Linked DNA regions of Homo sapiens: region 1 is linked to region 2. The links come from fine-mapping of genetic effects on gene expression. Tissue or cell type: unexposed skin. Region 2 holds a variant in brackets; the other region holds the start of a gene. All regions are shown on one strand. Distances are from middle to middle. Region 1 holds the start of LINC02562 (long intergenic non-protein coding RNA 2562). Region 2 has its middle 7.1 kb from the start of LINC02562.

Region 1 (2,805 bases), 7.2 kb after region 2:
CTGAAGTTTCCCAGTAACCAGAGGATATCAGTCGAGGATGGGGCTAGATCCTTGTCTGTTACGCTGATGGGAAGGGTCTATTTATAGCTGTATCAATGGCTCCAAAATTTAAAGGAGAAAGCCACGTAACTCACATACCCTAGATTTGCTCATATTATTGTTAATCTTCAAGTTACCTTAGAATCTGGAGCCTCCATCCAATTGACTTCAATCTTTGGATTTTAAGACATGTAAATGTGTTTCCATATAACTATAAAGCACTCTGAATTTGATGGATTTCTATCTTTTATTTTCATTTCATAGGACTAAAAAACTCTTACAAATATCAAAGTGACATCTGATTGAATTCTTGATATCTCTCAAGTCTTTGGTTTTGCAATCTAAAGTAATTCTACATCTAACGTTGCTCTATTGTTCATCCTCAATAGCAGATGACCTTGCACCTTTCCATTATATTTCTACACTCTTGGTGCTATTGAAAGCGAGCTACTTTATATTCTCTGTTTTATAGCTTCTGCTTTCTCATATCTTCTGCTTACTAATGGTTTTCTCTGTCTCGTGGGAATTTTGCATGCATTTTCTCGTCATATCCTTTTGCTACTAACCAGCTATATCTTTGTTTACAATCCCAAGACAAGTTATAAAAGAGACTTCTTTGTCCAGTCATTCCCATTTGGACAGAGCTATCATGCAAGGCCACCTCATAGCCTCCTAGCTGGTGACTTGTGAAATTGGTTCCCTGAAGATTGTTTCTCTTGGGATAGGTGCACACCTCTGGCTCATTCAGTGGCAGCCAGAGTAGATAAGTGGAGTCACATGACAGAGCATATGGAAATCTGCACAAGAAGCTAAATAGGACTCTTCGTTCAGAAGGTGTCAGTGGTAATGACGGATACCTGTATTGGTCTTTCCATACGAGAGTTGAATAAAACAGACAAAAAAAAATTTTAATTTTAGAACTATAAGAAAAAATAGGTGGATATTTATGTAATTTCATTGTAGGAAAAGTTTTTAAAGCATAAATACAAAGGGAAAAATCCTAAGGAAATTTATTAATATATACATTAAAAATGAATTAACTTTATATGTTAAAATATTATAAGGTTAAAAAGAAACTTACTAGGTGTAGTAGCATGTGCATATAGTCCTAGCTATTTGGGAGGCTGAGGCAAGAAGATTTCTTGAGCCAAGGAGTTCCAGTCCATGCAAGGCAACATAGTGAGATCCTGTCTCAACTGAAAAAATATATATATATATAATAGCAACTACTTGGATAAATGTATTTGCAACATATTGACAGGTATTTAAATTATTGCTATGTTAAGAAGAACTTGATTTTAAAAACAAGATGAACACCCCGATAAAATAATTGGCACAGATGTTGAATGGAGAATCTGCAAAAAGACGAAGAAGAAGGAAGGAAGGAAAGAAGGAAGGAAGGAAGGAAGGAAGGAAGGGAGGAAGGAAGGAAGGAAGGAAGGAAGGATCAACTTTGCCAATAATCAGAGAGATAAAAACCAATTTAACAATGTTTTGGCAGACATAGCTTATGCTTCTCAGGTTAGGGGTATTACTACGGTAGAAAATGCATTCTCCAGAGTTTTTGGAGGGTCATACAAGAATACATATGAAAGCCTTAAAACTATGCCCACAAAAATACTTTAACTTCTAGGAATTAATCCTAAATCTTAAGTAAACAATTAAGAATAGAGATGCACCATTTACATACATGGCTTTTCATAATAGTATTATGTATTATGGGTATATACCCAGTAATGGGATGGCTGGGTCAAATGGTATTTCTAGTTCTAGATCCTTGAGGAATTGCCACACTGTCTTCCACAATGGTTGAACTACTTTACAGTCCCACCAACAGTGTAAAAGTGTTCCTGTTTCTCCACATCCTCTCCAGCACCTGTTGTTTCCTGACTTTTTAATAATCGCCATTCTAACTGGTGTGAGATGGTATCTCATTGTGGTTTTGATTTGCATTTCTCTGATGGCCAGTGATGATGAGCATTTTTTCATGTGTCTGTTGGCTGCATAAATGTCTTCTTTTGAGAAGTGTCTGTTTATATCCTTCGCCTACTTTGTGATGGGATTTTTTTTTCTTACAAATTTGTTTGAGTTCTTTGTAGATTCAGGATATTAGCCCTTTGTCAGATGAGTAGATTGCAAAAATTTTCTCCCATTCTGTAGGTTGCCTGTTCATTCTGATGGTAGTTTCTTTTGCTGTACAGAAGCTCTTTAGTTTAATTAGATCCTATTTGTCAATTTTGGCTTTTGTTACCATTGCTTTTGGTGTTTTAGACATGAAGTCCTTGCCCATGCCTACATCCTGAATGGTATTGCCTAGGTTTTCTTCTAGGATTTTTATGGTTTTAGGTCTAACATTTAAGTCTTTAATCCATCTTGAATTAATTTTTGTCTAAGGTGTAAGGAAGGGATCCAGTTTCAGCTTTCTACATATGACTAGCCAGTTTTCCCAGCACCATTTATTAAATAGGGAATCGTTTCCCCATTTCTTGTTTTTGTCAGGTTTGTCAAAGATCAGATGGTTGTAGATGTGTGATATTATTTCTGAGGGCTCTGTTCTGTTCCATTGGTCTGTATCTCTGTTTTGGTACCAGCACCATGCTGTTTTGGTTACTGTAGACTTGTAGTATAGTTTGAAGTCAGGTAGTATGATGCCTCCAGTTTTGTTCTTTTGGCTTAAGATTGTCTTGGTGATGTGGGCCCTTTTTGGTTCCATATGAACTTCAAAGTAGTTTTTTCCAATTCTGTGAAGAAAGTCATTGGTAGCTT
Region 2 (2,805 bases):
CCTGGCCAGAACTTCCAACACTATGCTGAATAGGAGTGGTGAGAGAAGGCATCTTTGTCTTGTGCCAGTTTTCAAAGGGAATGCTTCCAGATTTTGCCCAATCAGTATGAAATTGGCTGTGGGTTTGTCATGAATAGCTCTTATTATTTTGAGATATATTGTATGAATACCTAACTTATTGAGAGTTTTTAGCATGAAGGGCTGTTGAATTTTGTCAAAGGCCTTTTCTGCACCTATTGAGATAATCATGTGGTTTTTGTCTTTGGTCCTGTTTATGGATTACCTTTATTGATTTGTGTATGTCGAACCAGCCTTGCATCCTAGGGATGAACCTGATTTGATCATGGTGGATAAGCTTTTTGATGTGCTGCTGGATTCGGTTTGGTAGTATTTTACTGAGGAATCTCACATCAATGTTCATCAGGGATATTGGTCTAAAGTTCTCTTTTTTTATTGTGTCTCTACCAGCCTTTGGTATCAGGATGATGTTGGCCTCATAAAATGAGTTAGAAGGGTTTCCCTCTTTTGCTATTGATTGGAATAGTTTCAGAAGGAATCGTACCAGCTCCTCTTTGTACCTCTGGTAGAATTCGGCTGTGAATCTGTCTGGTCCTGGACTTTTTTCGGTGGCAGGCTATTAATTATTGCCTCAATTTCAGAGCCTGTTATTGGTCTATTCAGAGATTCACCCTCTTCCTGGTTTAGTCTTGGGAGGGTGTATGTGTCCAGGAATTTATCCATTTCTTCTAGATTTTCTAGTTTATTTGAGTAGAGGTGTTTATAGTACTCTCTCATGGTAGATTGTATTTCTGTGGGATCGGTGGTGATATCCCCTTTATCATTTATTATTGCGTTTATTTGATTCTTCTCTCTTTTCTTCTTTATTAGTCTTGCTAGCAGTCTATCAATTGTGTTGATCTTTTCAAAAAACCAGCTCCTGGATTCATTGATTTTTTGAAGGGTTTTTGGTGTCTCTATCTCTTTCAGTTCTGCTCTGATCTTAGTTATTTCTTGCCTTCTGTTAGCTTTTGAATTTGTTTGCTCTTTCTTCCAGTTATTTTAATTGTGATGTAAGGGTGTCAATTTTAGATCTTTCCTGCTTTCTCTTGTAGGCATTTAGTGCTATAAA[A/T]CTCCCTCTACACACTGCTTTAAATGTGTCCAGAGATTCTGGTACTTTGTGTCTTTGTTGTCATTGGTTTCAAAGAATATCTTTACTTCTGCCTTCATTTTGTTATTTACCCAGTAGTCATTCAGGAGCAGGTTGTTCAGTTTCCATGTAGTTGTGTGGTTTTGAGTGGGTTTCTTAATCCTGAGTTCTAATTTGATTGCACTGTGGTCTGAGAGACAGTTTGTTGTTCTTTCTGTTCTTTTACACTTGCTGAGGAGTGCTTTACTTCCAACTATGTGGTCAATTTTAGAATAAGTGTGATGTGGTGTTGAGAAGAATGTATATTCTGTTGATTTGGGGTGGAGAGTTCTGTAGATGTCTATTAGGTCTGCTTGGTGCAGAGCTGAGTTCAATTCCTGGATATCCTTGTTAACCTTCTGTCTCTTTGATCTGTCTAATATTGACAGTGGAATATTAAAGTCTCTCATTATTATTATGTGTGTGTCTAAGAGCCTTTGTAGGTCTCTAAGGACTTGCTTTACTAATCTGGGTGCTCCTGTGTTGAGTGCATAGATATTTAGGATAGTTAGCTCTTCTTGTTGAACTGATCCCTTTATCATTATGTAATGTCCTTCTTTGTCTCTTTTGATATTTGTTGGTTTAAAGTCTGTTTTATCAGAGACTAGGATTGCAACCCCTGCTTTTCTTTGCTTTCCATTTGCTTGGTAGATCTTCCTCCATCCCTTTATTTTGAGCCTATGTGCGTCTTTGCACATGAGATGGGTCTCCTGAATGCATCGCACTGATGAGTCTTGACTTTTCATCCAATTTGTCAGTCTGTGTCTTTTAACTGGGGCATGTAGTCAATTTACATGTAAAGTTAATATTATTATGTGTGAATTTGAACCTGTCATTATGATGTTCACTTGTTATTTTGCCCATTAATTGATGCAGTTTCTTCATAGCATCAATAGTCTTTACAATTTGGCATGTTTTTGCATTGACTGGGACCTATTGTTTCTTTCCATGTTTAGTGCTTCCTTCAGAAGCTCTTGTAAGGCAGGCCTGGTGGTGACAAAATCTCTCAGCATTTGCTTGTCTGCAAAGGATTTTACTTTTCCTTTACTTATGATGCTTAGTTTGGCTGGATATGAGATTCTGGGTTGAAAATTCTTTTCTTTAAGAATGTTGAATATTGGCCTCCACTCTCTTATGGTTTGTAGGATTTCTGCCAAGAGATCTGCTGTTAGTCTGATGGGCTTCCCTTTGTGGGTAACTCGACCTTTCTCTCTGGCTGCCCTTAACACTTTTTCCTTCATTTCAACCTTAGTGAATCTGACAAGTATGTGTCTTGGGGTTGATCTTCTCAAGGAGTATCTTTGTGGTGTTCTCTGTATTTCCTGAATTTGAATGTTGGCCTGCCTTGCTATGTTGGGGAAGTTCTCCTGGATAATATTTTGAAGAGTGTTTTCCAACTTGGTTCCATTCTCTCCATCACTTTCAGGTACACCAATCAAACTAGATTTGGCCTTTTCATATAGTCCCATGTTTCTTGGAGGCTTTGTTTGTTTCTTTTTACTCCTTTTTCTCTAACCTTGTCTCCTCACTTTATTTCATTAATTTGATCCTCCATCATTGATACCCTTTCTTCCACTTAATCAAATCAGCTATTGAAGCTTGTGCATGCATCACAAAGT

What was found. PIP is the estimated chance that this variant, and not a neighbour inherited with it, causes the effect.
Region 1: it holds the start of LINC02562, and the variant in region 2 is fine-mapped to the expression of LINC02562 in unexposed skin (GTEx, PIP above 0.99). The same link has a PIP of 0.9 or more in esophagus mucosa, lung, minor salivary gland and sun-exposed skin.

The regions. Positions count from the first base shown.
Region 1 is chr4:75,083,469-75,086,273 of GRCh38, forward strand. It overlaps LINC02562 (long intergenic non-protein coding RNA 2562), which reads right to left and starts at 1,240. Exons shown (of 2, transcript NR_149051.1): 1 at 1,121-1,240.
Region 2 is chr4:75,076,248-75,079,052 of GRCh38, forward strand. No RefSeq gene overlaps it. Among named protein-coding and RNA genes, the nearest start is that of LINC02562, 7.1 kb to the right of the region's middle. The variant A/T (reference allele first, on the strand shown) is at 1,130.